3 separate regions of the Homo sapiens genome follow, and regions 1 and 3 are each linked to region 2. The links come from fine-mapping of genetic effects on gene expression. A gene starts in region 2. Each other region holds a variant in brackets. All regions are shown on one strand. Distances are from middle to middle. Region 1 overlaps BSN (bassoon presynaptic cytomatrix protein). Region 2 holds the start of C3orf62 (chromosome 3 open reading frame 62). Region 3 overlaps IP6K1 (inositol hexakisphosphate kinase 1).

Evidence for each region.
Region 1: its variant is fine-mapped to the expression of C3orf62 in whole blood (INTERVAL, PIP above 0.99).
Region 3: its variant is fine-mapped to the expression of C3orf62 in whole blood (TOPMed, PIP above 0.99).

What each region holds. Positions count from the first base shown.
Region 1 is chr3:49,587,637-49,590,396 of GRCh38, reverse strand. The region is part of intron 1 of BSN (bassoon presynaptic cytomatrix protein); the gene reads right to left. Among named protein-coding and RNA genes, the nearest start is that of BSN, 35 kb to the right of the region's middle. The variant T/AAAAAAAAT (reference allele first, on the strand shown) is at 1,315.
Region 2 is chr3:49,275,729-49,278,488 of GRCh38, reverse strand. It overlaps C3orf62 (chromosome 3 open reading frame 62), which reads left to right and starts at 1,257. Exons shown (of 3, transcript NM_198562.3): 1 at 1,257-2,062. The coding sequence starts at 1,617. It overlaps USP4 (ubiquitin specific peptidase 4), which reads left to right. Exons shown (of 22, transcript NM_003363.4): 22 at 38-1,345. The coding sequence ends at 196. RefSeq lists a silencer at 1,234-1,433 and an enhancer at 1,574-1,643.
Region 3 is chr3:49,782,529-49,785,288 of GRCh38, reverse strand. The region is part of intron 1 of IP6K1 (inositol hexakisphosphate kinase 1); the gene reads left to right. Among named protein-coding and RNA genes, the nearest start is that of IP6K1, 2.6 kb to the left of the region's middle. The variant C/T (reference allele first, on the strand shown) is at 1,360.

The DNA.
Region 1 (2,760 bases), 310 kb before region 2:
CATATTAATAATGTTAATTAAATGAAAATGGATTAAATAATCTAAAGGCAGAGATTATCAGATTTGTTTTTTTTAAAGAATCCAACAAAAGGCTATCTAAAGGACATATTTTAGATTCAAAGAAACAAATAGGTTGAAATTTTTTTTAATGGGCAAAGATTATCATGCAAACAGCAACCACAGACAGCTGTAATGGCTATACTAATACCAGACCAAACAGACTTTACAACACAAAACAAATGTTATTGAAAATGAAGATTTGGCGGGGCGTGGTGGTTCACACCTGTAATCCCAGCACTTTAGGAGGCCGAGGCGGGCAGATCACGAGGTTAAGAGATCAAGACCATCCTGGCCAACATGGTGAAACCCCGTCTCTACTAAAAATACAAAAATTAGCTGGGCGTGGTGGCACACGACTGTAGTCCCATCTCCTCAGGAGGCTGAGGCAGGAGAATCACTTGAACCTGGGAGGCGGAGGTTGCAGTGAGCTGAGATTGCGCCACTGCACTCCAGCCTGGCGACAGAGTGAGACTCCATCTCAAAAAAAAAAAACAAAGAAAAAGAAAGAAGGAAAAATAAAATGAAGATTGGCCAGGCATGGTGGCTCATGCCTGTAATCCCAGCACTTCAGGAGGCCAAAGGCTGTTGGATCGCCTGAGCTCAGGAGATTGAGACCACCCTGGGTAACATGGTGAAACACCGTCTCTACTAAAATACAAAAAATGAGCCGGGCGTGGTGGCATGCGCCTGTAGTCACAGCTACTTGGGAGGCTGAGGCAGGAGAATCGCTTGAACCTGGAAGGCGGAGGTTGCTGTGAGCTGAGATTGCGCAACTGCACTCCAGCCTGGGCGACAGAGTGAGACTCCATCTCAAAAAAAAAAAGAAAGAAAGAAAGAAAAAGAAAATGAAGATTGAAGATTGATAAAGAGGTCAATCCATTAGAAAGATATAACATTTGTAAACATATACACATACATAGACCTAAGAACAGAGCCCCAAAATTCATGATGCAAAACTGACGGAATTGAAGGGAGAAATAGACAATTCAACAACAGTAATTGGATACTTCAATACTTTATAATAATGGATAGAACAACTAGGCAGAAGATCAACAAGAAAATAAAAAACTTGAGCAACACTATAAACTAATTAGAACTAACGGGTATTTAAAAAACACTCCACCCGGCCGGGCGCGGTGGCTCACGCCTGTAATCCCAGCACTTTGGGAGGCCGAGGCGGGCGGATCACAAGGTCAGGAGATCGAGACCATCCTGAAACCCCGTCTCTACTAAAAAATACAAAAAAAAAAAAAA[T/AAAAAAAAT]TTAGCCAGGCGTGGTGGCAGGCGCCTGTAGTCCCAGCTACTCGGGAGGCTGAGGCAGGAGAATGGCGTAAACGCGGGAGGCGGAGCTTGCAGTGCGTGGAGATCGCGCCACTGCACTCCAGCCTGGGCGACAGAGCGAGACTCTGTCTCAAAAAAAAAAAAACACTCCACCCAACAACAGCAGAATGCGCACTCTTCTCAAATGTACACGGAACACCCTCCAGATTAGGCCATAAACTAGGCCACAAAACAAACCTCAAAAAATTGAAAAGACTTGAAATCATACAATGAATGTTTTCTGAACACAATATAATTAAATTAGAAATCAATAACAGAAATAAATTTGCAGAATTCACAAATAAGTGTAAATTGAACAACACATTCCTAAATAACTCATGGGTCAGAGAAGAAATCACAAAAGAAATTTTAAAGTACTTTGAGAGGAATTAAAATGAAAACACTGCATATCAAAACATTGGATGTAGTGATAGCAGTACTCAGAGAAATTTCTAGCTGCAAATACCTATATTCAAGAAAAGAAAGATTCATTTCAATTGATGCTGAAAAAGCATTTGAAAAAATTCAACATCCCTTCATGATTTTAAAAAAAACCCTCAAAAAACTGGGGATAGAAGGAACATACCTCAAAATAATGAAAGCCATATACGACAGACCTACAGCTAGTGTCATACTGAACGGGGAAAAATCGAAAGCCTTTCCTCTAAGATCTGGAACATGACAAGGATGCCCACTGTCATCACTGCTATTCAACATAGTGAGGCAGGAGAATAGGGTCTGGAGGAAGGGAACCTAAGGTCAATTTGCACTGACTTCCTAGAACTGAATCAAAAGGAAAATCCCGGCCGGGTGCAGTGGCTCACACCTGTAATTCCAGCACTTTGGGAAGCTGAGGCAGGCAGATTACCTAAGGTCAGGAGTTTGAGACCAGCCTGGCCAACATGGTGAAACCCCATCTCTACTAAAAATACAAAAATTAGCCGGGCGTGGTAGCAGGCGCCTATAATCCCAGCTACTTGGGAGGCTGAGGCAGAAGAATCGCTTGAGCCCAGGAGGCGAAGGTTGCAGTTAGCCGAGATTGCGCCACTGCACTCCAGCCCAGGCGACAGAGCGAGACTCTTGTCTCAAAAAAAAAAAGAAAAGAAAAGAAAAGAAAAGAAAAGAAAAGAAAAGAAAAACCCCAACTTTCCCTGCCCAAGTAACAAAATGACAGAAGTTACTCCTTTTGCATGGCAGATGAGAAACAGAAAGTACCCCTGATTGGTCCTCTCCCGCAACCAATCAGACATTTGCATAGGGTGTAACTTTGTAACTTCACTTCAGCCTCTGACTGATCGCCTTCCACAACCAATCATACTGGTCACAGGCTACCACTTCATCTACACAGGGAGCAAATCAAGCAACCAATAGGAAACATCTAAAGACTAT
Region 2 (2,760 bases):
CAAGCACTGAATGGTCTTTCCCCCTCTTGTATTTCAGACTAAAGCAGCTTATGTGCTATTTTACCAACGTCGAGATGATGAATTTTATAAGACACCTTCACTTAGCAGTTCTGGTTCCTCTGATGGAGGGACACGACCAAGCAGCTCTCAGCAGGGCTTTGGGGATGATGAGGCTTGCAGCATGGACACCAACTAATGCTGACTCCACGATCCTGCCACCCTGTAGCGCCAGTGTAATCCCCCAGGAGAACATCTTTGACACTCTGCAGACTGCTAGTGTTCTGTCTAAAAACCAGACAAGGAAATACCCTTCTTTTATGAGCAGAAGGAAACAAAAAAAAAAAAAGAAGACCGTTTACCTAGAAGAAGCTATGTCAAGAGGCTGAATTATTTTTATTTTTAAACAGGTGGTGAGAAATTTCTGTGAAACCTGTGAAGCTGAAAAGGGGGTGGGATGGGGGTACTCAATGGAGTATGTCTGATGGATCCCGAAGAATGGAGAGGAACACAGGCGCTGAGTATGGAGCAGCCTGGAGACCCACCCCACCTGCAGGGCTGCCCTGAGCGCCTGGATTTCTGGTTCTGATGCCAATACTAGTCACCCCAAGTAGTCTGCTCACAGTAACCCAAACCTCAAGTAAACTCCCCTTTCCCTCGCTATGTGCACTGATATGGGTTTATAATTTTCTGAAAGTTACCCACTGAAGCCCATTTCTCCGTTGAGTCATCTTGTAATTTCCAGCTTTCTCCCCGCTAAGGAAGATATCTAGTGTTGGGGATCCTGGCCCCTCAACCTCCTGTGGAACCCAGCAGTTCTGTTATATCCCCTGCTACCCTAGATGAATTAAGACGGTTAAATACTGTGTGGAACTTTTATTAGATAACACACTTTTTATTAGATAACGCTTAAAGGAAGTCAGTACATAAAACTGCCCGGTGCTGTGTCCCGTCTAGTTGTTTCCATGTTGGCTTGAGAACAGAAATCTTTGTGGGAGTTAGCCGGGAAAGGGCTCCAGTTCATGGCGATTTAGGGTAGTAATACATTTTGGTGTTACCCAGATGCTTTCTAGAACGGGTTCTTTCCTCATCCCTGCCAAGACTCTTCCCGGGGCCCCCATTCGAAAGCCCCGTCCCCACTCCCACCGCGGGGCCAGCCGCTGCGTGTGGGCAAGGCCTTAAGGAACCGGACGTATGGGTCCGGGATTTTTTGTCTGACCTTCAACCTAATCCGTGGGGGTTTGGGGCCTGCGCGGGGCACGCGCATGCGATGACCGTTGGATGGGTCGGCGTCACTGCGCTGCGGGTGAGGACAAGGACGTGGCTGCCGACTCGCCAAAGGGGGGGTGCCGGTAGGGCCAGCGGCCTGGGAGCCGCGGTGGGGCGGGAGGCAGCGGCGGGGCGGGCCAGGAAGCTGTGGGAAGTGGGGCGGGGCGTCTTTGGGGCTTCTGGCAGATGGCGGGTTCCTCCGCGAGAGCCGAGAACCGCCTACTCCAGGAGGAAAGCCCGAGGGTTGTGGGTCCTGCTATAGCCAGGGCCAAGCTCCAGGAAATCGTGGCCATTCAGGGGTAGTTTGCAGCCTCATTTGTAACATTATTGTGTTGTCCTGTGCATTTCCAATGCATTACATAAAGACATGGTCGCTTTTAGGAGAAATGTCTGAAAAACTAAGAAGATGCAGAAAGGAACTGACTGCAGCCATTGACCGGGCCTTTGAAGGAGTTAGTTATTCCCAGGAGTGCACAGGCCAGCAGAGGCTGGAACTGAGCGCCGCGCCGCTCTCCTTCTCGCTGCCCGTGCACAGGCTCCTCTGCAGAAGACATCCTCTGGCAGCCTGCTCTTCTGCTGCTCCTTTTGCTGCTGTCCCATGTGCTCCTGAGAATGAGAACCCTGCCTTTGCAACAAACCATGCCCCGGTAAATGCAAAACCACATGCTCTGTGCCCCGAGAGAAAACCTCTAACCAGCAAGGAAAATGTATTGATGCATTCCTCCATTTTGGCACCTGAAAGAGAGTCTTGGAGAACTGCAGGAGAGGGGGAAAACTGGAGAAAAGAAAATTTAAGGTGATTCTAATTTTGATGGTTTAACAGCTACAATTAAGGGGATTCTTGTTTCTGAAAAAGTTGTTGAAGATCCTAGATTTAGTTCATGACAGTGCTCTTGCCTCCTCTTGGCAGCTCTGTGACTGCATTTGGGGAGTTGACAGACATTCTTCAGAATCTGGCCTAGGAAACAGTTATATTTTGTGTATATGTTCCAGTTGAGGGGCTAGTTGTCAATCGTTGATGTCAAAAACCAGTCATGGAAACCACTTTGCAGTACCCAAAGGGGTAGTGGATGTAAAATAACCGGGTTTTAAAAATAACCTTATTTTTTAAGTTGCAGAAACAAAAGTCTTAATTCCATCTTAACTCCTGTGTTTGAATCTGGACACTGGGGCCTTTGATACCCTCCTTTGCCCACATTAGGGAGAGGCTTAATTGAAGGCTGGGCCCTACTTCCTGGCTTCATCTTTGCCTCTGCTCCCCGCTCTTACCCCAGATCTTTTTGGACCATCACCAGGTCTCTTCTAGACTTTTTCTTCTCCCGAGTAACTTGAAATTGCCTGGTCCCAGGCACCTTGACTTGGAGAAGGGATGAATGTATGAGATGAAACTTCAGGCCGGGCGCGGTGGCTCACACTTGTAATCCCAGCACTTTGGGAGGCCGAGGCGGGCAGATCACGAGGTCAGGAGATCGAGACCATCCTGGCTAACACGGT
Region 3 (2,760 bases), 510 kb before region 2:
TGATCCACCCCCCTTGGCCTCCCAAAGTGCTGGGGTTACAAGTGTGAGCCACTATGCCCGGCGCAAATTAACTTTTAACAGTACTAAAATTATCTTGCTCAGTGAAAACACCTTCAAGCCCCTTTCCTGTGAATTTGGGCAAGTTGGAGATCCTCAGTAGAGTGTGCAGGTCTAGGAAGAGTTCTCATTGCTCCAAAACACATTTCTCTTGACCTGTGGCCTCTTTGGTTCTTTGTACAGTCTTCTTGTATGTGGTCATAGAATATGCCTGCATGAGATGACTAAGAAGTCAAGCGACAATACTTTGTGCACTTTTTGTTTTGTTTTGTTTTGTTTTGTTTTTTTGAGATGGAGTCTTGCTCCGTTGCCAGGCTGGAGTACAGTGGTGCCATCTCGGCTCACTGCAACCTCTGACTCCCTGGTTCAAGCAATTTTCCTGCCTCAGCCTCCCGAGTAGCTGGGACTACAGGCACGTGCCACCACACCTGGCTAATTTTTGTATTTTTAGTAGAGACGGGGTTTCACTATGTTGGCCAGACTGGTCTCGAACTCCTGACCTCATGATCAACCCGCCTCCGCCTCCCAAATTGTTGGGATTACAGGCATGAGCCACCGCGCCAAGCCTACTTTTTTTTTTTTTTTCTGAGACGAAGTCTCGTTCTCTCACCCAGGCTGGAGTGCAATGGCACAATCTCAGCTGACTGCAACCTCTGCCTCCTGGGTTCAAGCAAGTCTCCTGCCCCAGCCTCCCAAGTAGCTGGGATTACAGGTGCGTGCCACCATGCCCGGCTAATTTCTGTATTTTTAGTAGAGACCTGGTTTCACCATGTTGTTCAGGCTGATCTCGAACTCCTGACCTCCTGATCCGCCTGCCTTGGCCTCCCAAAGTGCTGGGATTACAGGCGTGAGCCACTGTGCCTGGTCACGCGCCTAGCCTACTTTGTGCACTTCTATCAGGATCTTGTCACCTCTGAATGTATAATTTTGAAAGAGGCCAGGTGCGGTAGCTCATGTCTGTAATCCCAGCACTTTGGGAGGCTGAGGCGGGCGGATCACCTGAGGTCAGTAGTTAAGAGATTAGCCTATCCAAAATGGCAAAATCCCATGTCTACTAAAAATACAAAAATTAGCTGGGCGTGGTGGTGCATGGAGGCTGAGGCAGGAGAATCACCTGAACCCGGAAAGCGGAGGTTGCAGTGAGCTGAGATCGCGCCACTGCACTCCAGCCTGGGTGACAGAGTGAGACTCAGTCTCCAAAAATAAATAAATAAATAAATAATAAATAAAATAATAATTTTGAAAGAAACCAGCTCCTTGGTCAGGAGATCCTTTAGGAAAGCAGGTGCTGAACCCAGAGGA[C/T]GCTGGCAGCTTGTTGCTGTTCGACTGAGTTTATACTGCACTTGTGAGGCAAGGGAGAAGTTGAGTAGTCTTTAGTTATTTATTTCATTGTCCTTCAGGGCCATTTTTTGAATCTTTAGTTCATTATAATCTTGGTAAGACCAGTTCCTTGGGCAGTTCTTGAAAGGAGGGGGATATTAAAATATTAGCTTTTCTTTCTTTCTTTTTTTTTTTTTTTGAGACGGAATCTCGCTCGGTTGCGCTGGCTGGAGTGCAGTGGCATGGTCTTGGCTTACTGCAAGCTCCACCTCCTGGGTTCACGCCATTCTCCTGCCTCAGCTTCCCAAATAGCTGGGACTATAGGCACCTGCCACCATGCCCGGCCAATTTTTTTGTATTTTTAGGAGAGACGGGGTTTCACCGTGTTAGCCAGGATGGTCTCGATCTCCTGACCTCATGATCCGTCTACCTCGGCCTCCCAAAGTGCTGGGATTACAGGCGAGAGCTACTGCACCCAGCAAAAATATTAGCTTTTCAAAATTGTCCCAAGCCCCTGCTTTTTTTTTTTTTCTGAGACAGGGTTTCACCATGTTGGCCAGGCTGGTCACTCCTGACAGGTGATCCACCTGCCTCAGCCTTGGCCTGGGATTACAGGGGTGAGACACCACACTGGCTGTCATTTGCATTTTTAAAAATTACTTATGTAGAGATGGGGTCTCAGTTGCCCAGACTGGGCTTGAACTCCTAGTCTCAAGTGATCCTCCTGTCTTGGCCTCCCAAAATGCTAGGATTACAGGCATGAGCCACCATGCCTGGCCTTTTTTTTTTTTTGAGACAGAGTCTCACTCTGTCGCCCAGGCTGGAATGCAGTGGCATGATCTTGTCTCACTGCAACTTCCGCCTCCTGGGTTCAAGTGATACTCCTGCCTCAGCCTCCCGAGTAGCTGGGACTACAGGAGTGCGCCAGCACGCCTGGCTAATTTTTTTTTTTTTTTTTTTTTTTAGTAGAGCCGGGGTTTTGCCATGTTGGCCAGGCTGGTCTCAAACTCCTGACCTCAAGTGATCCACCCACCTTGGCCTCCCAAAGTGCTGGGATTACAGGTGTGAGCCACCACACCTGGCCACGCCTGGCCTTTTTTAAGAGACAGTCTCTTAAAAACCTCCTAGGCTGGAGTGTAGTGACACAATTGTAGCTCACTGCAGCCTCCAACTCCTGGGCTCAAGTGATCTTCTTGCCTCAGCTTCCAAAGTAGCTAGGACTACACACATGCGCCACCATGCCTGGCTAATTTTCTTTGTCTTAATTTTTTTGTAGAGATGGGGGTCTCACTATGTTGCTCAGGCTAGTCTCAAACTCGTGGGTGCAAATGATCCTCCTGCCTCGGGTTCCTAAAGTGCAGGCATGAGCCACTGTGCCTGGCT